2 separate regions of the Homo sapiens genome follow, and region 2 is linked to region 1. Evidence: fine-mapped expression QTL. Tissue or cell type: prefrontal cortex. Region 1 holds a variant in brackets; the other region holds the start of a gene. All regions are shown on one strand. Distances are from middle to middle. Region 1 overlaps WFDC1 (WAP four-disulfide core domain 1). Region 2 holds the start of WFDC1 (WAP four-disulfide core domain 1).

The links.
Region 2: it holds the start of WFDC1, and the variant in region 1 is fine-mapped to the expression of WFDC1 in prefrontal cortex (CommonMind, PIP 0.95).

The regions. Positions count from the first base shown.
Region 1 is chr16:84,318,382-84,333,941 of GRCh38, reverse strand. WFDC1 (WAP four-disulfide core domain 1) reads right to left here. Exons shown (of 7, transcript NM_021197.4): 4 at 14,371-14,511; 5 at 9,482-9,523; 6 at 6,987-7,060; 7 at 4,098-4,620. The coding sequence ends at 7,002. Among named protein-coding and RNA genes, the nearest start is that of WFDC1, 31 kb to the right of the region's middle. RefSeq lists an enhancer at 13,956-14,477. The variant T/C (reference allele first, on the strand shown) is at 4,353.
Region 2 is chr16:84,287,060-84,302,619 of GRCh38, reverse strand. It overlaps WFDC1 (WAP four-disulfide core domain 1), which reads right to left and starts at 7,742. Exons shown (of 7, transcript NM_021197.4): 1 at 7,505-7,742. The coding sequence starts at 7,648. It overlaps LOC124903734, which reads right to left. Exons shown (of 6, transcript XM_047435022.1): 2 at 13,574-13,703; 3 at 10,644-10,922; 4 at 10,070-10,121; 5 at 8,985-9,103; 6 at 7,782-8,287. The coding sequence starts at 10,647. The coding sequence ends at 7,782.

The DNA of each region.
Region 1 (15,560 bases):
TTTCTCAAACAGAAGGGGTCTCTCCCTATAGCCACCACAGCTGGGAATGTACTGGTCACACCTGACACCAGCACCTCTCAGGGCCCAAGGCCCACAGCATATTACCTGGGGATCACTGTTGGTTATTCAGGATCTGAGAGCTCTTTAGTGAGCAGGTGATGAATCCTGCCAGGACTAGGTCCTTCTCTTCAAGGCAGTGGGTTCCCTTCTAGCCCAGGGTATACCTAGAAATGTCACCCACGAGCTAGGGCCTGAAATGGGGGCCTCATGACTCTGCCCAGTGCCCTCTCCAACTGTGGCTGAGCTGGACTCCAAGATGCAACGTAAAAAGGCCTCTTTTCTTAACTCTCCTCTCCCTGAGCAGAAGGAAGGAGTCACTTTCATTGCTGCCAACTGTGCTGCCTGGAGTTGGAGGAGGGGTGGTTCAAGCACTTCCTTAGCCTTGAAGCCTGGTGTCCCTCTAGGTCATGTGCCCCACAGGTCCTCTGGCTCTAAGCCCAGCCCAGTACCAGGAGTTGCATAGGAATTACAGTCCTTGTGTCCTAGACAGCTTTTCAAGTTTACCTAGTACCTCAGAGCACTTTAGTCCACGGTGGCAGGGCTTGCTGAGACTCAAGTTCCGACCACTGGGATGGGCAATTCCCCTCTGGCTAGGGTTGGTCCAAATGCTCCCTCTGTGCATGGGCGCTGGCTGAAGCCACCACGGCTTTGCTCTCTGCTGTGACAGGGCAACACTGAGTTCAATGTGAAGCCCCCCAGTGGCTGCAGTCTTCCTCTCCCAAGTGCATAGATTTCCCCATGCCTCGTGGCTGCTGCTGCGGGATGAAGGAGGGGTGGCACCGGCGATTCAAGACTGTCTTTCCTAGCCTCTTCCATGCCCCTTTCTGCAACACGAAGTGAAAACCAGGAACTGTGATTGCTTACCTGATTTTTTGTTCTTGTCATGAGGCTTTCTGTGTGTAGTTAGTTGCTAAAATTTGGTGTTCCTGCAGGGGAGATGAATGGAGTGGGCTTTTATTTGGCCATCTTGCTCTTTCCCTTTTGATTTCAAGGTCATTAAAGGCCTTTCTTAGACTTACATAGACATAAGTTTTCATCATGCGTTTTTTTTTTTTTTTTTTTTTTTTTTTTTTTTTGAGGCAGAGTCTTGCTCTGTCCTCCAGGCTGGAGTGCAGTGGCACAATCTCAGCTCACTGCAACCTCTGTCTCCCTGGTTGTGCCTCAGCCTCCCCAGTAGCTGGGATTATAGGCGTGCGCCAGCACAGCTGGCTAATTGTTGTATTTTTAACAGAGATAAGGTTTCGCCATGTTGGCCAAGCTGGTCTCGAACTCTTGGCCTCAAATGATCTGCCCATCTCGGCCTCCCACAGTGCTGGGATTACAGGTTTGCGCCACCGCGCCCGGCCTCATGATGCGTCATTCTTATGTGTGTATCACATAAAAATATAAGTGCAATAAATGAGATAAGGTATTTCATAGGACTTCTTTCTGAGAGCATTGGTGATGCAGAATTTTTGGTTCCTCTGTTGTTTCTGGAAGTTTCCACCAAGCTGCTGACACCCAACCTACATGTTTTGATATTCACATGTACAGGCAATGATGCCTCCCTCGTGTCTGGGCCTGGAGGACACTGGCCATAAGACAAGCCCTAACTTCAGGAATGTCAAAAGGTGAAAAAAAAAATGGTGCCTCAGATTTGATTAAAGAAAAGGTGGTTAGTGCCTGGGAATATTACTTGAGAGAATGAGTGCATGAGTCAGTGCATGAACAAGTGATGAGTGAGTGGAAAAGTTAATTACCGTGAGCCTAAGGGAAAGTGCCCCGGGAGAACTTGCTGACGGGTGAAATGATACAAAGTCGAGCTTCCTTATTTTGGGCTTAAACCAGAAGTTCTCACCGGGTAACTGTACCCCACGGGACTTTGGCAAAGTCACATTTTTGGTGGTCCCAGCTTGGGGGAGGGTGCTTCTGGCATCTAGTGGGTAGACGCTGGGGTGCTGCTCAACATCCTACACTGCACAGGACAGCCCCCACCACAAAGAATGATCCTGCGCAAAACACCAATAGTGCCAAGGTTGAGAACCTCTGCCTTAAGCCAAACAGGGACAGCAGTTCCCCTTGAAATGCACACGTTCCCAGAAGTGTTCAGATATTATGACCAACTAGCACATCACCACCTCCAGGATGTCTTCCCTGATTACTGCCTTCCCTGCCTTCTGCCTTGGCTTAGCATCCCTCACTGGGCTCTCTTGGCACCTCCGGCCCCTGCTCCCATCTGTGCCTTCCCCACCCTGGATCATAACTCTCTCATTTCTCTCACTCCCTCAAGGACTTGGGCTCCTTGAAAGCAGAAAGCAGGTCTTATTTTTGACCACTTGGCAGTATACGACCACCTTCCTGCCTTGGTATTTGCATCTTGACAGTCCAGTCCCATTCATATGATCGTGACTGAGTTCACAGTAATAATCATAATGAGGTTGGAGTTCTCGTTGACACTTTAGAAATGTGGACCCTGAGGCTGGGGCATGTTCAGTAACCTGTGAGGGCCGCCCAGCTGGTGGTTGGGACTCAACACAAGGTAGGACCAGCCTGTCTAGTCTTGGGCATCAGAAGCTCTGGGCTCAAAGCCCATCTCTGTCATTTGCTTTCTTTTTGAGCCTAGGCAACTTGCTTAACTTCTCTGAGGCTGAATTTCTACAGCTGGAAAATGCGGATGTTCATACTCTTTTCACGAGGTTTTGTATTAAGAGAATTAGTGTGCATTGTGCCCGGCTAATGATAATAATTATAACCATCCCTGTGTGCTCAGCACTTACTATGTAGCATCTCACGCAATACCTACAGGAACTCTGAAAGCCAGCTACTTTTATTACACCCAGTTCAGAGAAGAGGAGACTGAGGCTCTGAGAGGGCAAGTGCCTTGCCCAGGATTGGAACTCAGGCTGAACAGGCTCTAGTGTCTCCACCCCATCTAGTGAGCAGCCCTCCAGGGAGTAGGGATGAGCTCAGCCCAGTCCCTTCCACTCCAGAGTCCTCCGCAGGATGGCACACTGTCAGGCGTCCCTTCTACACCTCAGTGGCGGGAGGGAGTCAGCTCCGACAGGCCAGGCTAGCAGAAGAGCAGGCTGTCTGGAGCCTGAGTGTGGGGTGGGACTGCCTGCTCGGAATCCTGGTTTTGGCTCTTACTGACTTCACAGCTTTGGGTGGGTCCTTTCAGATCTCCAAGATCCACAGTTTCCTCATCTGAGAGATGCACAGACGTTGCCAGGCCCCCTGGAGTCTCTGCTGCTTGTAATTATTTGCTTCCACTGTATGTGGCTAGCTGGGGGTGCACAGTCCCTTAGGGCCTCTGTCCTCAGCTCTGATGAGCCCTGGGGACTTCAGCCAACCCCAGGACAGTGCGAGCAAGCCGTCTAGCACAGGTGGGGCACCCATGATTTAATGGGAGAGCCCCGGGGTGCCCCAGGGGCTCTGCCGATGTCCCCTTGGGTGCCTTTGTGCCTCTCCCTCCCTGGCAGCAGGTGGGCTGCCTCCTCTCTTAGGGGGAGGGGCAGCCTCGCCACCCACTGATGGGTGCTGGAAGCGTTACGCATACTCGGGTTCCGCTGTCCAGCCCCAGTGGGACCGACTCCACAGTGTGGCTCAGGGCTACCGACATCATTTGCAAAATGAACAAGCAGGCCCCTTGTTCAACAATGACTAAGAGTTTTTAAATGGTGACAGCAGATCATTAAACCAAGCATAGGGTCCTTCTGGATGCACAGCCCTGGAGCCAGCCCTGGTGGGACTCAGGCTTCCTCCAAGACCCCCAGAGGGATTGCAGCAAAGGTGCCCTCCATGGGCCCTCGTCACCTCTCCCTCGTCTGACTGTCTCCTCCTGTTCCGCTTCCCCACTCTCATGCCAGTTTTTCCCAGGAACCGCCCTAATGAATCACTTTCAACAAATCCCCCTCCCAAGGTCTGCTTCAGGGGCTCTATGCTAACACAGGGTTCCAGGAGCAGAGCCTAGCTGACACCTCATCCCAGCAATACCCACGCTGCTTCCCACCCCTGAATTAAACAGTGACAAAGTATCACAAAACACCAGAGACTCGGCATCTTATTTGGTTGTTTTTATTGTTCTGTGGCCTCCTCCCACCTGCTAACATTTAGGCCTCAGCACATCCGGTGGCTACAACTAGGAATCACACATTAGTAAGCAAGTTCATTTCCATTTCCTGAAGGATGAATTTATCTTGGGAACATTTGAGATGGGTACATACCTCCCAGAGCCAGACTTGGGAGGAATCTGTCAAAAATATCAAGATGCTGAGCCTTGTCTTAGAAAGGGGCTTCAGAAATGCTTTCATGGG[T/C]GGCGGCTTCTTCCCGGGGTAAAGGTCTCGTGGAGCTGCAGGGCCTTGCTCCCAGGATGGTAAAACAGGGACCCAGAGCTGTTAAGTGGCTCCCACAAAGTCACCCAACCAGGCTGGGCCAAACTGGGTTTGATGGCCAGGTGTCCTGTCTCTAAGCATCTCTGGGGTCTTGCTCTGCTGAGCTGAATGTGAACTGTGAGGGTCAAACTACTTTTCCCAACTGTTTCCAAGGCTTAGCAGAAAGTAGAGGAATGTTCTTGCAACCTAGCTGGAAAGCAAGCAAAGAAGGATCAGGGTGAACCGCTGCAGGGCAGACCAGAGACAAAGAAGGGTCAGGGTGAACCACTGCAGGGCAGACCACAGAGTCACAAATCTTTCGTCTCCCCGCCGCCACCGCCACCATCAGAAACACCAGGAAGATGCCCCTTTCTGAGAAGACCCAATTCTGAACTCACTGTGACGTCTTCACGGCATCATCTTATTTAGTTCCTAACTCCTCCCCTACCATCAGTTCCATTTTATAGATGAGGAGGCTGAGGCTTGGAGAGCCGAAATTATTTACTAAATCCACAGTGCTGGAACAAGAATTTAAACCCAGACCTAGCTTGCTCCAAAGGCTGTACTTTTTTTTTTTCTTGAAACAGGGTCTCACTCTGTCACCCAGGCTGGAGTGCAATGGTGCAAACATGGCTCACTGCAGCCTTAACCTCCCTAGGCTCAGGTGATCCTCCCACCACAGCCTCCCAAGTAGCTGGGACCACAGGTGCACACCACCATGCCTGGGTAGTTTTGTATTTTTTTTTGTAGAGATAGGGTTTCACCATGTTGGCCAGGCCAGGCTGGGCTTGAACTCCTGGGATTATACCATATGCCTGCTTCGGTCTCCCAAAATGTTGAGATTACAGGCGGGAGCTGCTGCGCCCACCCAAAAGCCTCAACTTCCAAACTGCCATCCTCAACTGCCTCCCAAGGTCTCGTCCTCATCCACTGGCCTCCTTCTTCCCTGTTAGAAGCTCAGTCCTCAGCTGCATCTGACCTACTCCAGGGACGGCTCCTGTCATCAGCAGGTAACAGACGTGCTGGCATCAGTCCCTACGGGCTCCAGATTTTCCGGGAGGATTCTGGAACCTGCAATCTGACATTTGCGTTTCAGCGACGTCCTGGGAGGCTGTCACCTGCTTTTAGGGGCTCCTTTTTGCCCTCTGTGGCTATCCAGCATTCACAGGGGCTGGGTAGATTTTCAGGTTTAGGGCTGCAACTCCACAGCCCTTTGCATGCACCTACGCCTCACCTTTGAGGGCACGTGAGGGCAAGCCTGTGCCTCACCTGCGGCCTCCTCTGGAGTCAGCCTCCCTGCCACCTTCCTGCGTCTACCCCAGGGGCCTTCTTTGGCTCCCCAAAGCCAGCGTCCCTCCTGCCTCAGTACTTTCACTCTTCCAACTCCCTCCACCTGGGCGCCTATCCTCCAGACCCTCCCCAAGCAGCACCTTCTCACCTTGGATCTTGGCTCAGACTTCAACCCCCACAGGGCCTTCCCTGACCCCAAACGAAGCAGCCCCTGCCCCAGGCTCTGCTCCTGCCCAGGGACTCTGCCCCACATTGCCTGTTCACTTCTTCACCACACCTGTCTTTGTATTGATTGATCTGTTGGCTTGTGTAGCCGTCCCCTACCAGGATGTGGCCTCCCTGAGGGCAGCGGCTCTGTGGGATTTGTTCACTATACCACCCTGGCATGAACTACCGCTGAGCAACCAAGAGGCTGGAACCATGACTATCAGATAGTTGGCACCCAACAGAATTGTTTGACAGAAATGAGAAGAGATAGACAAGACTTCCTGGAGACATCAAGGCAAAGGAATGAAAAGGAAAGTTGCGACCTAGTCTGGTCTTGGATTTTTGATTCAGAGGGATACAGAATTGCTTCTGCTTCTGATCACACACAAAGTTCTCCTACGTTCCTGCCTTGAAATTGCAGTAGGTCCTCATTTAACATCATGGATAGCTTATTGGAAACTGCAACTTTAAGCAAAATGACCTACTATATAACAAAAACAATTTTACCATAGGCTAATGGATATAAACAAGAGTTAAGGCCAGGCACAGTGACTCATGCCTGCAATCCCAGCACTTTGGGAGGCCAAAGTGGGAGGACTGCTTGAGGCCAGGAGTTCAAGACCAGCCTGAGTAACATAGTGAGAACTCATCTCTACAAAAAATACAAAAAAAAAATTAGCCAGGTGAGGTGGTGTATGTCTGTAGTCCCAGCTACTGAGACTAAAGCTGAGGCAGGAGGATGGCTTGAGCCTAGGAGTCTGAGGCTGCAGTGAACAATGATTGTGCCAGTGCACTCCAGCCTGGGTGACAGAGTGAGACCCCATCTCTTAAAAAAACAAACAAATGAGTTAAGCTTCTATGGCATACAGTGCATATAGTATGTCGTTGCATTTAAAGTCAGTTTCCAAGAACCTATTGATGACGTTAGGTGAGGACTTACTGCAGAAGGGAATTTCAAATTCTACCAGTAGGGAAAGCGCTACTCTCACCCTCCTGCTCCTCAACCTGGTGGTGAAAGCTGCCAGGACACTGGCTGCCCACATTTACCCTGGCCATGACTCTTGCTCTCTGCCCACTCACCTGCTTGCCGTTGCTTTACTGAAAGTGCTTCTGTTGTCCCCTTCCAGGTTCTGCCACATTCTTTGAGTCACCTTCTGTGAAAAGAACACAGCTCTGTTGGGGTAGATGTATCTATTCCTGCTCTAATGCCCCCCGTGGCTCACCAGGAACTGCCAAATGAAGCCTGGTGACCTGGCCCTCTCCTCCCTCCCCCAGCTGAGGTCACTCAGTCCCCACCTGCAGTGCCTCCTCTCCCTCCCCAGGCCCCCCAGCTGGTGTCACCAGCTCTGTCTATGTTTCTGGTCTTACCTCCCACCACCTCCACAGCTCACCACACACTCCAGCTTTGGGGATGGCCAAATTGCTTCCGACCTCAAGAGCTTCACACATGCCATTCTGCTGCCCACTATTTCTTATTCTTTAGGCTGAGCTTTCATGTCTCCTCCTTAGGAAGCCTTTTCTCACAACCTGGACTAAGGTGTCCTCATAGTATCCAGCATGTGATGTCAGGAAGGCTTGTCACTATTCTCATAAAATAACCACTTGGGCTATATTCATGTCTGAATTTTCTGCTTGATATTAGCTGCATGACAGCAGCGACTGGGTCTGTCATGTTCACAAATGTAGCTCCAACCCCCAGCACAGACTGATGAGTAATACTTAGAAAATATGTGCTGTAAATTATTGATAAAGACATATCAGATGGATGGGAGAATGGATGGATGGATGGGTGAATGGATAAATGATGGATGGATGGATGGGTGAATGGGTGAATGGATAAATGATGGATGGATGGATGCATGGATATATGGGTGGGTGGATAGATGGATAGATGGGTAGATGAATGGATGGATGGATGGATGGATGGATAGATGGGTGGGTGGATGGACGGATGGATATATGGATGGATGGATAGATGGATGGATAGTGGCTGGCTGGATGGCTGAATAGATAGATGGATATATGGGTGGATGGATGAATGGATACATAGGTGAATGGATGGATGGGTAGATGGGTGGATGGGTGGATGGATGGATGTATGAATGGATGAAAGAAGAGATAGATGAATGAATGCAAGGATATGTGCATGAATGGATGAATGGGCAGATGGATGGATGGTTGGGTGAATGGATGTACGGGCAAATAGATGAGTGGATATAAGGATGGTTGGATGGAGGGATAAAGGAATAGAAGGGTGGATAAAATAATAGATGGGTAGATGAAAAGATAGATGAATATATAGATGGATAGATGGAAGAATGAACAGATGGATGAATAGATCGATGGAGGAATGGATGGATGGATGCATGCTTGAAAAAATGGATGGATGAAAGATTAGATGAATATATGAATGGATGAATGAGTGAATGGATAGATGAATGGGTGGGTGGATGGATGGTGGGTGGATGCATAGATGGGTGGGTGGATGGATGAGTGGATGGATGGATAAATGGATAGACAGATGGGTGGATGGGGCCAGGCACAGTGGCTCATGCCTGTAAATCTAGCACTTTGGGAGGCCGAGGCGGGCAGATCACCTGAGGTCAGGAGTTTAAGACCAGCCTGGCCAACAAGGTGAAACCTCGTCTCTACTAAAAATACAAAAATTATCCAGGTATGGTGGCGGACACCTGTAATCCCAGCTATTTGGGAGGCTGACGCAGGAGAACTGCTTGAACCCAGGAGGCAGAGTTTGCAGTGAGCCAAGATTACTCCAGTGCACCCCAGCCTAGGCAACAGAGTGAGACTCCATCTCAAAAAAAAAAAAAAGGTAGATGGGTGGATAGATGGATAAGTGAAAGGATGTATGTATGAATGGATGGATGGATAGATGAATGGATGATTGGTGAATAGGTAAGTAAATGAAAGGATGGATGGATGGAGGGATGAAGGAATAAAGGGGTGGATAAAAGGATAGATGGGTGGGTGAAAAGATAGATGAATATGTGGATGGATGGATGAATGGGTGGATGGATGGAAGAATGAATAGATGGATGAATAGATTGATAGAGGAATGAATGGATGAAAAAACAGGAAGATGAATGAAAGAATAGATGGATATATGAATGGATGAATGAGAGGATGGATGGATGAATCGGTGGATGGATGGATGGATGGTGGGTAGATGGATGGGTGGGTAGATGGATGGAGGGATGAATGGATGGATGAAATAATAGATGGAGAGATGGATGGATCAATGGATGATTAGATGGATGAATGGAAGAGTGGTATCAGGCGTGTTTTCCAATTCTCTGAATGAAAGTAGCAGAGGCTTAAATATGAGCAGTTCCAGGCTCTGCTCTTCAGCATGAGGTCATGTTTGCCATGAGCTCCTCTGTGACTCACAACTCCCTGCCCACCATCAGACCACAGGTCTTCTATTTTGTTTCTTAATCCCAGGTCCCATTTTGTTCCCTATATCTCAGCCCTGGGCTTTTATTTTTTTCTTCACATAAGAAACTTTCACTGCCTTTTTTTTGTGCCCTCTGGAAAGAAAGAACAGTTTCTTCTTTTACCTGGATATTCTTTGTAAAGTTTGTGTCGTAGGATTCGCCCATCTGGAAAACAAGTGAGAGGAAAAAACTTCTTTTAGGAGTTTAGAAGGCCAAAACTGTTGTCATAATAACACTGAGGAATTACTTGTGTTTTTCAGTCTCCCCATCTCACTAGTGTACAATGGAATTGTTCAGAGGCTACATGAGCATTTGTAATGTCTCAGCTCTAGTTTCTAATATGATAATATCCAGAGCCATCAACCCATAAAGGAAAGCCCTGTGAGATCTCCTTAACATCTTTCAGGGTACAGCGGTCTTGAGAGCAAAAAGTTTCAGAACCACTGTCTTTTTTTTTTTTCTTTTAGACGAAGTCTCACTCTGTTGCCCAGGCTGGAGTGCAGTGGCATGATCTCAGCTCACTGTAACCTCTGCCTCCTGGGTTCAAGTGATTCTCCTGCCTCAGCCTCCCGAGTAGCTGGGATTACAGGCATGCGCCACCACACCCAGTCAATTTTGTATTTTGAGTAGAGATGGGGTATCGCCATGTTGGTCAGGCTGGCCTCGAACTCCTGACCTCAGGTGATTCACCCACCTCAGCCTGCCAAAGTGCTGGGATTACAGGCGTGAGCCGCCATGCCCGGCCAAAACCATTGTCTTAACAGATGAACTGGAAGCCAAATTTCAACACACTGTTGAGTAAATGTCATTACAAAATATGTTCACAGGGGGAAGAGATGACACTCTTTTGAGTCTGCCCAAGAGACACTCTGATGTCATTACTGCAAATGACAAAGTAACTTGAGTATGAATCCTCACTCGTCCTCTTTGAGCCTCAGTTTCCTCTCCTAAAAATAGGCATAAAATTAGTACCTCTTAAAGTTATTGTGAGGATTAAAAGAAACAATTTCATTTAAAACATATCTATGCAGTATTAGGATGAGCCGTATGAAAATTCTATCTTTGTGTGTAAAAAGTGGTCAACTGCTGGCAATTTCATGCATGTCCCATGACTAGCCGTGCTACCCACCCCATGGTAGCAGGAAAGCATTTGCTGACAGGAATGTGACCAGGACATGTGGATGCTTGAATGTGGCAATCTCTCTCAAATTTAGCTCACTTCTCCATCCTGGTGATCAGCGCTGCCTTTTCTGCTATAAGGTTAATCAAGCACATATGCGCGGTAGCCAGACATTTTCTTTTTCTTTTGTTTTGTGGCCATACTAAAAATCATCAGGCTGTTTGGGACCAGCACGGACATTTATCGGTCAAGGTGCTAACGCTCCATGGAACCGCTCCAGGCCCTCCGGTGGGTCAGCGCCTGCTGATCAGCAACTGCAGCAATAACTATTTTCCAAAGCAAATGGCTAAGGTTTTTGTAGGCTGGGGGAGCTCCCCAAAACTTTCCTGCTCCCCCTTTACCTGGGGGTGAATTCTGGCCCATAACACCACAAGGAGACAGAGGTAAATGTGGACCCCGGACCCCCTCCTCAGGCCAAATATAATCACTTATAATTTATTACCAAAAATGATTACTCGTCACTTTTCTCAAATTGCCTCCCACTCAAGGCTAGACAAGCCCCACTTCATTCTTCTCAAGCAGTGTCTTGGGCAGGACAAGGAGGGGCCAGCCCCCGCAGCTCAGCTTCTGTGTGACCTCAAACCTACTCAGAAAAATGCACCGATTTTCCCTGAACCCACTCTCTGAAAAACCAGATTTACTATACATGTCAGTGTTCATTTTCCTCTTGCATAAAATGTGAACCCCTCAAATGCCTGGTTCCAGGTGCTGGATGGTCAAACTTGAAGGACTATTGGTACCCGCTAGAAGCCTCTCTTACGGGAGGATGGCATCTTAGGTGTCGGCACAGGGCCTGTCGCTTACTCTCAAATGGTCCAGAAAAATACACACGTAGATTTATAAGTGGGGAGAGAGCATAAAGGAAAATGTAACGGTAGTTTTTTAACAACTGGTGAATCTGGGTGGGGGATTCAAGGTACTACTTTTGCAACATTTTTATAAGTCTGAAATTATTTCAAATATGCAGTTTTTAAAAACTTAAATAAAAAGCTTCTTCCTTGGTAAGGCTGGGACAAGGGGGCCACCCTTCCCCTGAGATTTTTGCTCCAAGGGAAGTTGCTGGAATTCAAAATGTTTTCAAACCTATATATAATTACCAGTAAATTACCAGTAATTATTGCTAAGTGTCAGCCCCCTGAGAACAAGGCTAGGGGGAATTCCACTTACAGTTCCATTTGGAAGCCTCAAATCGTTCATTTGGGAGGGGAAGCTCACACACACACACACACACACACACACACACGCACACACACACACAGGCTCTGAGGCTGGTGGACAGTCTTGGAATTCCAGCTCTTCCAGCTCTGCATCTTTTGGGTAAATTCCTGAACTCATATCCTCCCTTTACGAAGACAGGGATGATGGTGGCACACATTCACTGAGGACCTACAGTGGGCCAGGTGCTATTCTAAGCACTTCATACGTGTTTCTCTCACTCAAGCCCCATAACTACCCCATGAAGTAGTCACTATGGTTACCATCGCCATCTCTATTTTACAGATCAAGGAACTGAGGCTAAGAGAGGTTGGGTGACCTGCTCAAGGCCACGGAGGAAGAAAGTTACAGGCTTTGGACTTCTTTCTGTGGTTCTGAGCCTGCACTCTGAAACCTATGCAGCACTGCCTCCTGGTTCTACTTCTCCTTTTGCAGGCTTGCAGCAAAGCTTAATTTAAAGAGAGCACTCCAAAGGTGCATGTTAACAGTAGGCATCACTGGTGTGGTCACCACTGAATGACTGACCCTCTTTGCTTAGCTCTGTCTTGAAATGGGAATTTTTTTAACTGGTTTGAACCCTTAAGAACTAGTTTGACTTGGTTTGACCTTGGTCTTAGACATCATAGGGCTGAATGAAAAGATCAGGGGATGAAAAAGACAAGTGCCCAAGGCATTCCTATTATGCCGTCATTATTATAAATGGTGGCATAGCCCAACGAACTCACAACTCGCCCCACAGCTCTCTTTTGGAAAAGGCTATCCCTTCCACACTCCAGCAGCCTCACAGTGGCTGGCAGGCCCTTGCGGTTTTACCTCCAAAGGACCATACACCCCACCCACCCACGGCAGGATTGAGTGTCTAGAGACAAGCAGTGATAAAACAGTGAAGGTTGTTTACTGTGCTTGTGAATTGATGGACACTCTACACAGATTAACTCACTCCTCAAAGAGCCCTGTGAAGTACCTCAAGTATTATGAACCCATTTTACAGAAAAGGCAAATGAGGCCTGAAAAGGTTATGTTATTTGCTGCCCACAGCAGTAAGGGGCTGAGTAGCTGTGGCAGCCCAGGCTATCTGGCTGGAGAAGCCACCCTATAACCCCAAACAAAGCCCTGCAAATAGCAAGTGGAATGTAGAGGAAACCAAAAAGGCATCTCTTTGTTTCAAAGCCTTTTGTAGATAATTTCTTCAAAGTTCAGGATTCCGGGATTTGCATCACTTTATCTGCAATGATAATGACATTAAATGCATGACTGATTTTACGTCTATGCCTTTCTTGAAACACTTCAGAGAAAAACATTCTCAAATCAGAAAAAAAAAGAGGTTTTGGCAGATCATGCACTCCCCAGTATACTTTCGGCAAATAGGGTCACTGTAATTATCACCAATCTTGTCTGAGGGTCCTGTCCTTAGCTATTAGGGCTATGAGATGCCGAAGCGGGGACAGGGGCCCCTGGGTGTGGTCTCAGTCTGACTGACACTGACTTTGACAAGGTGAACCTGGCCACCCTGAAGTCCCAGATTCCTGGCTCACCACACAGTTCATCCAAACTCCATGCCAAAAAGCACATTGAAGTCTTTCAACTTGATTGCCTTGAGTGGGGTTCGAGATGGTTTTAGATACCACCAGGAATCGCTGTGCCATTGTTCTTTCTTTTCTTGGGAAAATTATGCCAATGAGAGCAACACAATTCACTCATCTATTTATTGCCTTTGTGTCCAAAGACGAACACAAATTAAGTCAAACTGAACAGTCCTGGCAGAAGTTCTGGAAGTTAAGGATTCTCAGACAATTCTAATTCAATGCAGTTTGAAAACAGATACAGATGCTTCTTGACTTACAATGGAGTTATGTACTGATATACCCCCTACAAGCTGAGAATATCTTAAGTCAAAATGCACTGAACACAGTTAACCTACTGAACACCATACCTTAGCCGAGCCTACCTTAACTGTGCTCAGAACACTTACATTAGCCTAGAGTTGGGCAAAGTCATCTAACACAAAGCCTATTTTATAATAAAATATTGAATGTGTCGTGTAATTTGATTACCATACTGAAAGTGAAAAACAGAATGGTTGGATGGGAACTTGAAGTACAGTTTCTACAGAATGCATGTTGCTTCTGCACCAGCGTAAAGTCTAACAATCTTAAGTTGACCATCGTAAGTCGGGGTCCATCTACACATACGTGGATATAAAACATCCAGTGCTTACTGACCACCTACTATTCCTTAGGGCTGCTCCGACTGCTCTGCACTTATGATTTCAGTCACGCCCCACAACAGCATGTAGTAGCCCCATTTTACAGATGAGGAAACTGAGGCTCAGAGATAGGAAGAAATTAACCCCAGTGTCGCCCAGCTGGGAGGTGCAGAGCTGGGGTTTGCAGCCAGTCTGCTGGCTCAAGAGCTTCGGTCACATGCTAGTGTGACAGGGAAAGGGTAGGGGCCATGAAAGAAGGAGCCGGGCAGGGGGAAGATGTGAGGAGCTCTCAGTCAGGCCCAGGTGCTGGGGCTGCTTCCTGGGGCAGGTCGTCCATGCGGGTGAGAGGCGCTTACAGGGAGAAGGGGACTGGGGCAGGAGCCAGGATCAGGGCTGGGGTGCCACACTCACCTGCTTGCCGGCGCTGCTTGACGCACTGCCCACGGTTGGGGATACCTTCGGCCACGTCACCTGGGCTCAGGATGTGGCACTCATAGCCCGAGGGACAGAGCAGGGGTTCGGCCCCATCCTCCGTGGTGCTGCACGCCTCTGCTGCAGGAGGGACACACGCTGGGGTCTAGAAGGCCGACTCCCAGGACAGGTGCACATGCTAGGGTCTAGAAGGCAGACTCCCGGGACGGGTGCAGGGAACGCACCTCACCCAGAGAGGCGGCCTCGCCTCTGTACCCCAGGTTCCAGGCTAGGCCCTGGGTCTCACTCAGCGGCATGTGGCACACGTGCACACCCACAAACACGCACACAAACACAGGCAGTCCAAGCTCACCTGATCCCAAACATACTCTCACAGGCTCAGCAACATCCATATAGACATGTTCACGGATACACCCTGAAACACACACTCAGCCCTACAGTCGCATGGGGACACAGACATTTACACAAGCAAGTCAGACGCACAAATACACACAGACATATACGCACGCATCCCCACACACAAATCCTGCACACACATATCCACACCCACATACACACACGCTTACCCACACATGTACACTCACAATACAGTCACACACTTTTGCATGCACACACACACACACACACACACACACACACAAATATTCAGCCACAGGCACAAGGACAGCCACACAGTTGCATATACGGCCGCACACTCTAGCGGACACAGTCACACAACACACAGATGGACGTGGAGTCAGAAGCACAGCCGCAGGTGTGCAAGGGTGCCCGCTCGCACCTCCTAGGCCTCCAGGCCCCCGACCTGCATGCTGTTCCTTCCAGAAATTGCCCTCTGCCTCCTGGTACCTCCCCCACCCCCAGGGAGGCTTCATCATTAGAGAGCGGTGAACCCCCTAGAATTCTAGGAATTTGAAAACCAACCCTAAGCCCCCTCCCCTTCAATTCTCCATCCAGGAGGAGGCTCCATTCTTGGGGAGAGTCGAAGCCCTTATTCTGTACTGGGCTTTGATTCTGGCCAAGCCCCCAGCCATCAGCCCTTCTTCGCTGGGGTGGGGAGGATCAAAGAGGGCTGAGTGTTTGGCTGAAGGGCCCGTGCATGGGGGACAGCCGGCCTGGTGCTGCCAGCTTTCTGGAAGCAGCTGAGAAGGAGGGATCGAGGCTTGGATGTA
Region 2 (15,560 bases), 31 kb after region 1:
GGGCTCTTATGTAAACATTTAAGGGAAATCATAATGGGGCATTCAGGGAGAGGCCTCGGAGGAGATGGGCGTGAAGCTACGATGACCCACGAGCCGGAGTGGGCACCGTGAGCGGACACTTGCTGAGAGGCTGCCTCTCGGTGCTGGGGACACAGAGGACTCACAAGGACTCTATGTGCCATCGCAGAATTCCCGAGAGGTGCCTCAGGTTCTCGCTGCTTTTTAGAAAAATTATTGTGGTAAAATATATATAACATGCAATTTTCCATTTCAGCCATCTTAAGTGTGCGAGTTGGCGGCATTAATTAGACTTACGATGTGTGCAACCACCTCCATGATCTATTTCTGCGGCTTTTCCATCACCCCAGGCAGAACCTCTGTTCTCATCAGACAGCTGCCCCCTATTCCTCCCTCCCCCAGCCCCTGGCAACCAAGAATCTCCTTCCCGTCCCGCTGGATTTGCCTCTTCTGGACGTTGCATCCAAACAGTGTCACACACCCGTGGCCTTTGTGCACTCAGCATCATGTCTTCGAGGTTCATCTGTGCAATGGCGTGTGTCCAGGCTCCGTACCTTTCTATGGCTGAGTTCTAGTCCCCTGAGTGGACAGGTGCGATGTGCTCACCCCATGGGCATCCATCTGCCTCTGCCCTGTGGCTGCGGTGAGTGCTGGCACAGAGGTGTCCTGCTTTCCTGTCTCCCTCTCCCGAGTGATAACCACACAGGGACCTGGGATGCTTCTTTACTCGTTGATTTCCACCTGGAATTTCAGGGCTGGGACCTCAGATGAGGAATCTCAGTCCCAGCGAGGAGAAAGTGATTTGCCTAAGGTCCCCCTCAAAAGTCAGCTATTCATGGACTTTTCATTCCTTCCAGTCCCCCCTCCATGCCAGGTTCTGGGCTAGACACCAGGGTGTGGCCAAGCCTACAGTAAGTTTGCTTCACATCAGTACGACATATCCCCTCTCTCCAGCACCCAGGCAGCTCCGGGGCTTTTCTGGGGTTCTCAACCATGAGCCTTGAAGACCCCCTCCTGGGTGCTGCTGGGGGTTTCCGGAGCCTACTGAGCACCCGCTGACCCCCAAGACGTAGGCATCTTCATAGTCTTGATGATGAAGTCCCGCAGGGTGTGAGCTCACCTGGTTCAAGGAGCAGACAAAGCTCCCAGACTCTGGGGATATAGTGATAGCCCCACTTGTCCCCAGCCAAAACAGCACAGATAAGTCATTCTCTGCAATGGCCTCAGTTTCCTTATCTGTGAAATGTCTCGTTGCCGGTTGCAACCAACAGAAGCTGACTCCCTTGATGCCCAGAGCAGACTGTATTCGTGTCCGAGGGTGCTGCAACAAAATGCCACACGCTGGGGGCTTAAAACAACACAAGTGGATTCTTTCACAGTTCTGGAAGCCAGAAGGCTGAGATCCAGGTGTCTGGCAGGGTTGGTTCCTTTGTGGAGGCTCTAAGGAGAAAACCTTTCAATGTCTCTCCCAGCTTCCAGTGGTGGCTGGCAGTCCCTCATGTTCTCTGGTCCCTCATGTGTCTCTTGTAGATACATCACTCTGACCTCTGCAACCCTCTGTCTTTGCATGGCCTTCTCTCCATGTGTCTCTGATTCTATGTCTCTTCTCCTTTTCCTTTTTTTTTTTGAGATGAAGTCTCACTCTGTCGCCCAGGCTGGAGTGCAATGGCATGATCTTGGCTCACTGCAACGTCCACCTCGCCTCCCAGGTTCAAGTGATTCTACTGCCTCAGCCTCCTGAGTAGCTGTGATTACAGGCATGCACCACCATGCCCAACTAATGTTTGTATTTTTAGTAGAGACAGGGTTTCAGCATGTTGGCCAGGCTGGTCTCGAACTCCTGACCTCGGGTGATCCGCCCACCTCGGCCTCCCAAAGTGCTGGAATTACAGGCGTGGGCCACCATGCCTGGCCCCTTCTCCTTTTCTTATAAGGAACGGGGTTCATATTAAGGAACCACCCACCTCCAGCATGACTTCATCTTATTTTGACTAATTACACCTGTAATGAACCTGTTTCCAAAAAAGGTCACATTCACAAGGATCAGAAGTTAGGGGTTGGATATATCTTTGGGGGGACACAGTTCAACCCACAGCATGGATCCGACAGGATTCGAGTGCAGGGAGTACATTTGGGAGGGGATCCCAGGAAGCCCCAGCTGGGGAGTGGGAAGCTGGGCAGGAAAGGGAAGGCGCCCTTCAGGGAGTGTTAATGAGCAGGTGGCTGCCTGGGCACTAGAGCTCAAACCCAGTGGACCTTGGAGAAACCGTGTGGAACACTCCTCACTCGTGTCCCACCAAAGTTGAGAAGCCAGCTGGGCCATCGGGCTCCAGCTCCATTTGCTCCTACAGGTGTTACCTCCCCGGCACCTTGGCCTGACTGTGTGTGGGCTGAGCAGGCTCCTGCAGCCAGAGAAAGCCTTCAGGCCAGCAGACACAGATGCTTACGGTACAAAGATGAAGGTGAAGGTCAGAACTCATGGAATGGTGAAAGCACAGCTCCAGGCCATCTGCTTCTCCCACTCTTGCTATCTCAGCAAAAAATAAAAGGATGTTTGGAAGGCTCTCAAGAGCTCACAGAAATAATGGGGGAAAGGAGATGGGGAACTGAGGAATGCAAGTTGTGGGCCACTGCTGGCTCCTACAGTCCCCTACTGCTATTAGCACAGGGGGTGCCTCCAGATAGACAATGCAATGCTCCCCTCCCTCCCCCCGTCTGGCAGGATGCATTTGAAAGAGAAAGTGGCACCAGCTCCTGGCTGCTCTAGCCCCTCCCAGCCCCCCTCAGCAGGACAGGCATCTCTGGGCAGGGTGCAAACTGAACCACCATTTCCAGCTGCCCTGGAGGGGTGCTTAGAGGGGAAAACAGACCCACAGTCACACTGACAGTAGGGGCCAGCCTGCCCAGGCCAGGGGCTGCATAGCACCGAGGCCCGCATGGTGGCTGCCATGGGCCCCACCCGGTGGATTTGTCGAGAGGCTCCCAAGAGCGAATACGTGGCAAACTCTTGCCCTGACACAGTGTAAGCGCTCAGTAAATCATTGTTCTCAGGAGTTTCATCTAATGCCAGGAAAGAAAAACCAAAAACACCAAGTCCACAGAACCGACTGAGCTCCATGGAAAGGTTATTGGACTATTTACAAACGTTCTGCTTCTGTTTTATTCATTCTCATAAATATTTGGTTCTGGAATGGGGTTTTTGGTTTTTTTTTTTTGCTTTTTGTTTTTTGTTTTTTGAGATGGAGTTGCGCTCTTCTTGCCCAGGCTGGAATCCAATGGCACGATCTCGGCTCACCGCAACCTCCGCCTCCCAGGGTTCAAGCAATTCTCCTACCTCAGCCTCCCGAGTAGCTGGGATTACAGGCATGCGCCACCATGCCCGGCTAATTTTTTTTGTATTTTTAGTACAGACGGGGTTTCTCCATGTTGGTCAGGCTGGTTTTGAACTCCCGACCTCAGGAGATCTGCCTGCCTTGGCCTCCCAAAGTGCTGGGATTACAGGCATGAGCCACTGTGAGCCACTGTGCCCGGCCTGGAATGGGTTTTTAAATCTGTCCGTAGTGCACATGTAGGGAATGCAGTTCTGTGCCAGTCAGGGAACTGTGGGCTCTATGGTCTTTTTACTGAGCCCTGCAAAGCAGGCACTACTGTGTCCCGTGCTGCAGATGAGGAAACCGAGGCTCAGATAGGAGAAGGAAACTCCTGAAGGTCTTAGAGATAGAAGGCGGGAGACCCGGCACTTCTCATTAGAAGCTTCTCCTAAGGGCCTCCCACGGGAATGGAAGGCAAGCGTGCTCATCTCTGGCACTGTCTCTGCATGCTTAGACCAAGAAGCATAAACAGCACTCAGGACATTAACCGGCCCCACTCTAAGAGACCAGTCCGCTACACAAAACTCACTCTGCCGGGGGACGAGGCTTTGAGAGACTAGAGCAGGCTACAGGCAGCCCTGCGCTTGGTCAGGACTGAACCACCAGCTCTCCTCATGTAGCCCTGGCCAATTTCCAAGGTGTAAATACTCCCAGCATGGTTGATTTCAGGCAACCCACGTGAGGCCACTGAATGGGAGTGGGAAGAGATGTGGAGTAGCTTCTCTCCTGGTCATACCACACGGATGCAAAAGACATAAAACCCCAGGAGCCAAGAGAATAGCAAAACGGAGCAATACAATTGGAAAGTGATGCATTTCTAACAAGAAGTATTTCCTGGCTGGGTGCGGTGGCTCACACCTATAATCCCAGCACTTTGGGAGGCCGAGGCGGGCGGATCACCTGAGCTCAGGAGTTTGAGACCAGCAAAACCCCATCTCTACTAAAAATACAAAAAATTAGCCAGGCGTGGTGGTACATGCCTGTAATCCCAACTACTCAGGAGGCCTAGGCACAAGAATCACTTGAGCCGGGGAGGTGGAGGTTGTAGTGAACCAAGATCACACCACGGGACTCTGTCTTAAAAAAAAAAAATTCTTTCCTTTCTTTTTAATACAAATGATTTAACTGTAAGTTTATATAACTTAGTTTGTGATCATGGCTGTGTGGAACAAAACTGGCTCTCCAGAGGGGGTGCAAGCCAGTTCAGCACACAGCCAGCATCTCCTCACTCTGACGAGCCCATAGCCCTTGAGGGTCAGGGCCAAGGCTGAAGGTCTCACTCAGCGTAGGGTGAGGGAGTGGTGCCTCACGGGGAAGTCTCGACTTTGTGCATGTGGGGGCTGCTTCCTATCATCCGTAAGTCCCTGTCGAACGAAAGGGCCATGAAAGTCATAGGTTCTCCATCTTCATTTCCCAGGTGAGGACTGAGGACCAGAGAAGGGCAGCGAGTGGTCCAAGATTGCACAGCACATTAGAGATTTCACTGTGATAAGTTCCAGGCCAGGTGCTCTTCCCAGCCCTCCCTGTCCTCTGAGCCACAGGCGAACAGCCTGTCTTCGCCCAGGGCTTTCTCTGAGGCACAGTTTTTTTTTTTTTTTTTTTTTTTTTTTTTTGAGACAGAGTTTCACTCTTGTTGCCCAGGCTGGAGTGCAATGGCACAATCTCGGCTCACTATAACCTCCACCTCCCGGGTTCAAGCAATTCTTCCACCTCAGCCTTCTGAGTAGCTGGGATTACAGGCATTTGCCGCCACACCCAGCTAATTTTGTATTTTTAGTAGAGATGGGGTTTCACCATGTTGGTCAGGCTGGTCTTGAACTCCTGACCTCAGGTGATCCACCCGCCTCGGCCTCCCAAAGTGCTGGGATTACAGGCATGAGCCACCGTGCCTGGCTGGCACAGTTGTTCTGCATAAACCTCACCTATGTCTAGGCGCTGAGGAAGGAGGCCAATATCTGTTGATAACCAGGGAAAGTTTCAATTCAGCGAGGAGCCAATTCAAAGCACTTGCATCCTGACCAGTGGTGGCTACAAGTGAATCAGCTCCTGCAGCCCACCCAGGCCTGTGTTTTAGAGACTCCCCCAAATCCCCCGCGCATATCAACCCTGACCCTCCTATGTGGATGTCACAGTGCTGGCTCCTATGACATCTTGGGACATGGTGGAGATAAAATCAGATGACATATTGGCAATCTCTCTATGGTTGTAGAACCAAAGTGCTACTAACTACAGTTGAGGGTTAAATCATCCTGTTGCACCAGAGAAGAGCATGGAGGAGTCAATAAAATCTGAGAAGAGTCTCTCACCCCTCCTCAATGCCTCCCCTCTGGCCAGGTCTGGTCTCCCAAGCAGCTCTTAGATGCACCACTTCTGCCTGTGAGCCTCGGCTCATGCTGAGCCTTCTTCCAGGAATTTCCTTCCTCCTCCTAATTCCTAATCCTTCCCCAAGATCCAGTCAAGGTCTCCACCTCCTCCAGGAAGCCTTAGGTGACTACACCATCTCACATGAGCTTTCCCTTCTCCAAGCGCCTCATCATGTCACTCTACTACTCTTTCCACTTCTCGAAGTCCTCCTGTCTCCCGCCACGAGCATGTGCCGAACATGGAGAATATGAGCCCTGGAGGCCCAGATTTGTCTCAATACAGTTTCAGGCACCCCACTATGCCTGGGGTCATTAATCATTCTCCCTTCCCTCTTCTCCAGCTGGCAAACTCCTATTTATCCTTTAAAGCCACAGGTCCACTGTCCCCAACCCTAAAAACCCTGTCTGACTCTCCTGGGGAAGAGCTGCACACGCATCCCGTGCTACCACTGCAGCCGCTCATAATTCACCCACAAGAATGTACCAGGCGTCAACTTAATGGCAGGCACCAGGGGCACACATTAGTGAAACAGAACCCTGCCCTACCCCAAGGAACCTACATGCTACCCTGTTAGGCAACACCAAACAAAGTCACAATTATTTGATTGAAAGCTGCCAAGATGCACTGCCAGCTTGCTATGTTGCAAAGACGTTCTACATACTGAGACATTCAATCCTCACACAGGTGCTGTGGGTGCCAGCATTACCTTCTTGAGCCCTCTGTGTGCTGATATCGTCCTGGCTCACTCCGTCCCTGCGGATCTGTGATCTCTGGGGGGTGGGAGGAACCAAAAATGATAGCCTCCTCCACCCCATTCTCTCTCCTAGTTCCCTTCCTGCTTTATTGCTTCCTCAGCACTTGCAATCTGCACATACTAATAAATGAGATCTCTCTCATTTATTCTTTGCTGCCCCCAGCCCCCCATTGAGTTCCCCAGGCAGAGATGTGAGGCCTGTATCCCCACAGCCTAGGACAGTACCTGGTAAACAGTGGCGACCCAGACATAGTTGTGTGAAGAAATGCATCCCTCTGTCTTTTGCAGATGAGATTGCTGGGGTTCAGAGACGTCAAGCAGCTTGCCTGAGAGAAGCCACGCAGCTAATGAGCAGCAGAGCCCGATTCACACCCAGACATCTGGCCCCAGGGCATGTGTTTCTTGCCACTCACTGCCTCATGCCTTCTCTTTGTACTGCCATCGTTTGTCACCCAACTGCCTCTGCACCTCGGCCACGCCACCCTTGAGGATGGGGGCTGGTACCTCCTTTATCTTGTATCCACAGGACCCCACAGAGTGCCTTCCCCAGAGCGGTTTCTGCTAAATTCTGTTTAACAGAGTGTATTCATTCTGTTTGCTGAATGAATAAACAACCACATGAATGCATAAGTGTATTTCACAAACATTTGGTACTGATCAGGGAGACGGAATGCTCCGTTTAAATCCTGGGGTTCCGAAATGAGATGCTGTCTTTCAGGAGCAAGCATACTTTTGTAACAAGGCAAAAGTAAGGCACGATTCTTTGGCACATTTGTGATGTGTCTTTTGCCTCTTGATTCACAGATAAGGGTCCTTTTTTGGGGGTGAGCCCCATCTGCCCACCACACAACTCAGACACACACGGATAGGAAGACGCCTGCCTTGCCACGTTTTGGGGGAGCACTTACAGGAGAAGGCAGTGTCTAGGGATCGCCTCTCCTCAAGGCTGACTCCCACCCACACAGGCTGCCCCAGCCTCCCCATCCCAGGCACTTACACGGGATTTCTCGGCCAGCCTCGCAGGCAATGCCCGTTTCCAGATATTCTTGGCAGAGCCGGCGTGGAGGAGAAGTAGCAAGAGGCACAGAGCCCGGATGATCTGCCTCCTGCAGCTGCCCGGCCCCACGCCGGTTAAAGGCATTTCCTCCCTGGGCAGCGACCTTCCAGACGCACACAGAAGAGGGGCCCCCCTCGCTGCGTGGGCCTGTGAGTGGGGACAGGAGCGTGCACAGTCTGCTGGACTTTCTTAGTTCCACCCAGCAGGGTCCCTCGGATCATGTGTCCGCGTCCAGCACATGCCCCTTCCTCGATGGTGGCTGGCCTGCCCGGTTATTTTTAGCTTGCCCTATAACATCTGGCCCCAGACGCTCCAACCAGGGCGTCTGCAGCCCAGGCAGCTCAGTGGGCGGTGGCAGCAGGAGGAGGGGGCACCGGCTTGCTTGGAGACGTGGCCGGGAGTGGCCTGTCACTCTCCACTCTCCATAATGAGCACTTCCTTGCAGGCTGGGGCGGTCTCCTCCCAAGGAGGTGTGCTTGACACAGGGCTCGGGGCTGGACATGCAGGGGAGTGCAGCCGGATGGGTGGGGGCTCGGCTGCTACCTTGTTCACATTTCGAGCTGGGCTGACAAACTATCTGCCTATAAAAGCTTCTTTGAAAGAGGCTGCTGGACTGGCACTGGCCAAGGGTGCAGCCATGAAGAGACGACTTCCACCCTTGCACCCGCCGGGGTCCTCCTGCCTGATGTGGGCATGTGGGTAGTTCCTCATAGCGTGTGTTTCCTGTGAGATTTAAAAGAAATTGAGCACATAAAGCATTTCACACACATAAGTGTGCTGTCACTGTCAGCCGGTGTATCTGCACATGTGCATTTATGTGTATGCGTGTGTGCACGTGGGTGTGCATGTGCACGTGTGTGTTTTACAGGAATGTAGCACAGCGGGCTCAACATTTCACAAACTTCATATTCCCTTGTCTGTTCTCAGCACTTCCAAGACAGATACTGGTTTTTTGTTTTGTTTTGTTTTTCGAGACGGGTCTTGCTCTGTCACCCACGCTGGAGTGCAGTGGTGTGATCACAGATCACTACAACCTCTGCCTCCCGGGTTCAAGCGATTCTCCTGTCTCGGCCTTCCAAGTAGCTGGGATAACAGGCATGTGCCACCATGCCTGGCTAATTTTTGTATTTTTAGTGGAGACTGGGTTTCACCATGCTGGCCAGGCTGGTCTCAAACTCCTGACCTTAAGTGATCTGCCCGCCTCAGCCTCCCAAAGTGCTGGTATTACAGGTGTGTGAGCCACCACACCCGGCCCCAAAACAGACACTGTTTTGATGCCCGCTTTACAGATGAGGAAACAGAGGGGGCTGCCTGAGGTCATGCAACAGCAGCAGAGAGGAGGCTGGAACCCAGGTAGGTCAGACCCTGTGGCACCCCCCTAGGCGAAGCAGAAGGGACCCAAGCACTAGGCTTGACGCACCTGCCTGATCCCAGTTCAGCCTCTGCGAGATGCTGGAAAGCCTCTTGCTCATGGTCCTCAGTTCTCTCATCTGTGAAATGGGCATGTGAAAGTCTCTGCCTCTTGAGATCGATGTGGGGCTACAGGAGAGGGTGCCAGCTGTGCCCAGCACTTGCACAGAGTGAGTGCTCCAGAAAGATTGGTTCCTCCCTCCCTGGGGACCCTCACCCCCCACCTCCTGGCCAGCACAGCCTTCAGAATGCCCTGGGCAGGTATCATCAACCCCTCTTGGCCTTTTAGTGAATGACAATAGTGGCAAACACATATAGTCTGTGTAGGTCGGGTACGGTGGCTCACACTTGTAATCCTAGCACTTAGGGAGGCAGAGGATGCCTTGAGCCCAGGAGTTCAAGACCAGTCTGGGCAACATAGTGAGACCTCATCTCTACAAAAAATACAAAATAAAAAAAGTAGCCCGGCGTGCTGATGCACACCTGTAGTCCCAGCTAATTGGGAGACTGAGATGGGAGGATCACCTAAGCGTGGGAGGTTGAGGCTGCAGTGAGCTGTGATGGCGCCACTGTACTCCAGCCTGGGTCACAGAGCAAGACCCTGTATCAAAAAAAAAAAACCTTAAAAGCCATACAGTCTGTGTGTTCGGCAATGTTTGAAGCACTTCCTGCATTTTAATGCTTTTAGGTCTCATATTAGCCTTATAAGCAGGTGCTGTCTAGGATCCCATGCACAGAGAGGTTAAGACACTTGCCCAGTGAGCAATGCAAAATTTAAGTTCACCATCAGAGTCCTGTAAACCCAGGAGCCCAAGCGTGAGAGTCTTTTTACATTTTAGACCCTAGATGCCTCCTTTGCCTCCCGCTAGGCCCAGCCCTGATCATTACCTTGCCCTAGATTCTAGAATATTCCTTCATTTCTTCATCCAGAAACTACTGGCTGAGCCCTTATGGGGGCATGGTCCAGCGTGCTCCACTCCCTCTTCTTTCAGCTTTATGGGACGCAGTCTCAATGCCCCTCCCTGCAGGGCAAGGCTGCTTATTTAGAAGCCAGGAGCCACCCACGGACATGATGGAGCTGCTACCCCTACTTACCAGGACGACCTGGAACAGGTCCTGCCCCATCTCTCTGCCTCTGTTTTCTCATCTGTAAAACAGGGGTATGGAGTCAGAACTTACTCGCAGGTTTGCCATGAGGCCCAGCTGCACTTAGGCGAGGATCTAGGCTCAGCACATGCTTGCTGTTAGGAGATGAGCGTTCTGAGGCACCGCCTCCTGGGCCTCCTCCACCCGCACCCTGTTCTCCAGGCAGAGCGGAACCTTGGCCCAGGTTCCATTTGAGAAACTTCCTGCTGCTTGGAACCTGGGGCCCTGCGCTCTCCTAAGGCAGCTAACGCCTCCCATGTGGTTCTTGCTCATCCTCCATCTCCACCTTCCCCTTAAAATGTAGGCGTTTCCCATTGATGTTACAGTCTTGGCCCATTTCCTGCCTCTCTCTCTCTCTCCCTGGGTGGCCTCACTTCTGCCAACAGTATGACTCCCCTCCCTCTGGGTAGACGAGGTTCCAAATGCCCTCTCTCAGCCTCCTTGCTGGGCAAGGCGCCAGCCCTGTGCCCCTGCAGCGCCCTCCACCTGGAATGCTTTTCCACCCAGCTGCGGCACTCCTCACCCATCACCTCCTCCAGACTTTTGTTCACGTGTCAGTTTCTTGCTGTGGTCCTCTCTGACCCCAGGATTGAAAACCACCATTTGCATACCACTGGGACTCACGGTGCCCCTCTTGGTTTTATGCTTCTTCGTACTCATCTCCACCTGACATATTCTGTATTTTACTAACTTTGCTTTCTTCGTTTATCGTCTATGTCTCCACACTAGGATGTCAGCTCCACGGGGGCAGCTTCTGGGGATCTGTTTGTTCACTTTGGAATCGCCGATCCCTAAGCAGTGCCTGGTGCAAAGTAGACACTCAGTAAAGACGGTGTAATGAATGAGTTGTGCTTAACACATTTCATCTACCAGCTCGATGGCTCGACGTGGCTGTCGCTCTCTACCCATGCTTCCCTGTGAAACATGGCTGGTCTGAAATGAGATCTGTCATAAGGATAAAATGCAGACCCGATTTGGAAAACCTGTGAGTGCATGTGTCTTTATGACAGTAATGAATTACTGTCCTTTGCATATATTCCCAGTCGTGGGATTGCTGGGTTGAATGGTAATTCTACTTTAAGTTCTTTGAGAAACCTCCAAACTGCATTCCACAGTGGCTGAACTAGTTTGCCCTCCCACCGACAGTGTATAAGCGTTCCCTTTTCTCCACAGCCTCACCAGCATCTGTTGTTGGCTGGAGACAGGAAAAAAAAAATGTCAACGTTTCATTAGGAGTTTTTACGTTGGTCGTGCATTCAACTGCTAATTCAACTACTAATGTTTATGCTATATTGGGTTAAATATAATATGGTATTACATTAACTGTACCTGTTTCTTTTTGGAGACGAGGTCCCACTATGTTGCCCAGGCTGATCTTGAACTCTTGGGCTCAAGCCATACACCTGCCTCGGCCTCCCAAAGTGCTGACATTACAGGTATGAGCCACTGCACCCGGCTCCGTATCTGTTTCACATGGCTACTAGAAAATTTACAATTACACATGTGGCTTGCCTTATGTTTCTATTAAGTTTTGCTTGTCTGAGATATCAAACTCCTTCTCTAAGGTTCAGCCAAGGCCATCACTGTCTAACCAGACACCCAAGCTCAAACCTTCACTTCACTGCTAATACCTACCTTACTCCTCTCTTTATCTGGTCTCTAATTCATAATTTTTTTTTTTTTTGAGATGGAGTTTCGCTCTTGTTGCCCAGGCTGGAGTGCAATGGTGTGGTCTTGGCTCACTGCAACCTCCTCCTCCTGGGTCCCAGAGATTCTCCTGCCTCAGACTCCCGAGTAGCTGGGACTGCAGGCACCAGCCACCACCCAGCTAATTTTTTTTTTTTTTTTTTTTTTTTTTAGTAGAGATGGCGTTTCACCATGTTGGCCAGGCTGGTCTCAAACTCCTGACCTCAGGTGATCCAGCTGCCTCAGCCTCCCAAAGTGCTGGGATTACAGGTGTGAACCACCGCACCCAGCCTAATTCAGAATTTTTAAAAGTTATTATATTATGGTTTTTTTCCCCTAATAGCATAATTCATGTTTATTAGCAGAGAACTGGGAAAACAGAGGAAAGAATAAACAAAATCTTTAAAATACATACATCTAGTATCAGTATCCAGAGATAACCAACGTAGCCTTTCTTTTTTTCTATGTATATATATTAGTCATGATAGAAGTCAAGGCCAAGGCCAAAGTCATGGCTGTGGGTGAGGTCAACATGGCAACGTCAAGTAACATTAAGAACACAGACTCTGCATCAGAGAAATGCAGATCAAAACCACACTGAGATACCATCTCACACCAGTCAGAACAGCTATTAAGAAGTCATAAAACAGGCCAGGCGCAGTGGCTCACACCTGTAATCCCAGCACTTTGAGAGGACAAGATGGGCAGATCACATGGGATCAGGAGTTCGAGACTAGCCTGGCCAAAATGATGAAACCCCGTCTCTACTAAAAATACAAAAATTAGCTGAGTGTGATGGCAGGTGTCTGCAATCCCAGCTACTTGGGAGGCAGTAGAATCGCTTGAATCTGGGAGGCGGAGGTTGCAGTGAGCCGAAACCACACCATTGCACTCCAGCCTGGGCAACAAGAGCAAAACTCCGTCTCAAAAAACAAAAAGTCATAAAACAGTGGATGTTGGCGAGGCTGTGGGGAAAAGGGAACACTTACACGCTCAGTGAGAAGGCAAACTAGTTCAGTCACTGTGGAATGCAGTTTGGAGATTTCTCAAAAAACTTAAAGTAGAATTACCATTCAACCCAGCAATCCCACGACTGGGAATATACCCAAAGAACAGTAATTCATTCTATCATAAAGACACATGCACTCAAATGTTTGCTACACACTGCTGTTCACAACGGCAAGGACGTGGAATCAACCTAAGTGCTCGTCAACAGTGGACTGGATAAAGAAAACGTGGTACTTGTTCACCATGGAATACTGTGCAGCCATAAAAAACAGCAAAATCATGCCCTTTGCAGCCAGGGCTCCAATGGATGGAGCCGGAGGCCATTATCCTACGTGGCCCAATGCAGGAACAGAAAACCAAACACCACATGTTTTCACTTATAAGCGGGAGCTAAACATTGAATACATGTGAACATAAAGATGGGAACAACAGAAACTGGGGACCAGTAGATGGGAGAGGGGGGAAAGTGGACGTGGGCTGAAGAACCACCCGTTGGGTGCTATGCTTATCACATGGGTGATGGGATCACTGGGACCCCAAGGCTCAGCAGCATGTAATTTACCCGTGTCACAAATCTGCACATATACCCTTTAATCTACAATAAAAGTTGAAATTTAATAAAAGAAGAACACGGACTCTGCAGCCAGCTTGCTCGGGCACAGACACCTGCTCTGAGACCTCCCAGCTGTGCGACCATGGGCAAGTCACCTGCCCTCTCTGTTCTTTGGTTGACTCATCTGTAAAATGGGAGTAACATACCTGTCTCACAGGGTTGTCGTGAGTGTTGAATGAGTAGTATGTAGAAGACGGTTGTACATGTTCCTCTGTCCTCACTTGACCATAAATTTTTGAGGACAGGGCTGAGCGTTGTCCATCTCCGAAGCTTTCTCTGGGACATGGACAGGAACCTCTTTTAGTGAGCATTTACTATATGCCTGGCACAGTGCTGGGCTCTTGAGATCACCATCTCCACTTCTTCGTTGTGCTCACTCTGCTCTAGCTTCTTCCTTGACAGCTCCCACCCCAGGGCCTTTGCACAGCCCCCCAGTTGCTCTCTCCCCAGATACCTGCTTAGCTGATCCCTCAATTCCTTCCAGTCTGTGCTCCAATTTTGCTTTCTCAATGAGGCTTACCCCAACTGAGCTTTTAAAATCACCATCTGCCTCTTTTACACCACCCTAAATTCCCAACCCCCTTTGTCCTGCTTTCTTTTTCCATAGTTTCATCACCTTCTAATAAATTATGAAATGTACTTATTATGTTTACCACTGATGGTCTCTTTCCCTGTGGTACACAGAATCATGGGCCCTTAAAAGATGTCCACATCCTAATCCCCAGGACCTGCGAGCATGTGGTCTTACCTGACAAAAGGGACTTTGCAGAAGGGATTAAAGCAAAGATCTTGAGATGGGGAGAGTATCCTGGATTATCTGGGTGGGACCAACATAATCACAAGGGTCCTTGTAAGAGGGAGGTAGAGAGTGAGAGTCAGAGGAGATGAATGGTGGAAGTCGGGTGGGGGTGGAAGTCAAGGGAAAGTTGATTTGACACGCTACGCTGTGGCTTTGGAGATGGAGGAAGGGACCATGAGCCAAGGAATGCAGGCAGCCCCTGGAGGCTGGAAAAGTCAAAGGAAGTTCTCCCCTAGAGCCTCAGAGGGAGCACAGTCCTGCAAACCCCTAGAGTTTTCCCCAGTGGGACTCAGGTGGGACTTCTAATCAACAGAACTGTAAAATCATAGACTTGTGAACTTGTTGAGTTCGCAACTGCTAAACTACATGATGCTGAGGCTTCAGATCCCAATGATCCCGTCACCCAGGCCCTAAGCATAGCACCCAATGGCTGGTTCTTCAGCCCACGCCCCCTTTCCTCCCTTCCCCATCTAGTGGTCCCCAGTGTCTATCATTCTCATCTTTACGATCACTTGTAGTCAACGTTTAGCTCCCACTTAGAAGTGAGAACATGTGGTCTTTGGTTTTCTGTTCCTTTGTTAGGTCACTTAAGATAATAGCCTCCAGCTCCATCCATGTGGCTAAGTTTATGGTCATTTGTTACAGCATCAAGAGGAAGGTCGTACTTTGGGAGGCTGAGGCGGGCAGATCACTTGAAGTCAGCAATTCAAGACCGGCCTGGCCAACATGGGGAAACCCCATCTCTATGAAAAATACAAAAATTAGCTGGGCATGGTGGTGGGAGCCCATAGTCCCAGTTACTCGGGAGGCTGAGGCAGGAGAATTGCTTGAACCTGGGAGGCAGAGGTTGCAGTGAGCCAAGATTGCCCCACTGCACTCCAGCCTGGGCGACAAAGCCAGACCCTGTTAAAAAAAAATTAAAAATTAAAAAAAAAAAGAGGAAGGTCCTATACCCACAAGTGGGATATAGGCTCTGCAAGGTCAAGTATCCATGTCTCTTACTGCCTGCAACCCAGCGCCTCGCACAGGGACTGGGCAGCATCAGCCCTCAGTAAGTCCTGGACCGATGGACAGAATCAATGTCATCATCATGGCCCCATCAGGAATGATCCCTGTTCTATAAAGAGATGGAAGGCCACAGAATTTAGGGGCTCTTTCCAAAGTCCCAGCTAGTGACTGAACTCCAAAGTGCTTTCCTCAATATACACAGGGCGTGGTACATGAGACACTCAATAAATGTTCTTCTATTGAGCCATCCACTCCGCAGCAGTATTCAGACCACAGGGACCCAGGATGCCGAGCAGTGACCCCTCAGTTAATTTCTCACAATCATT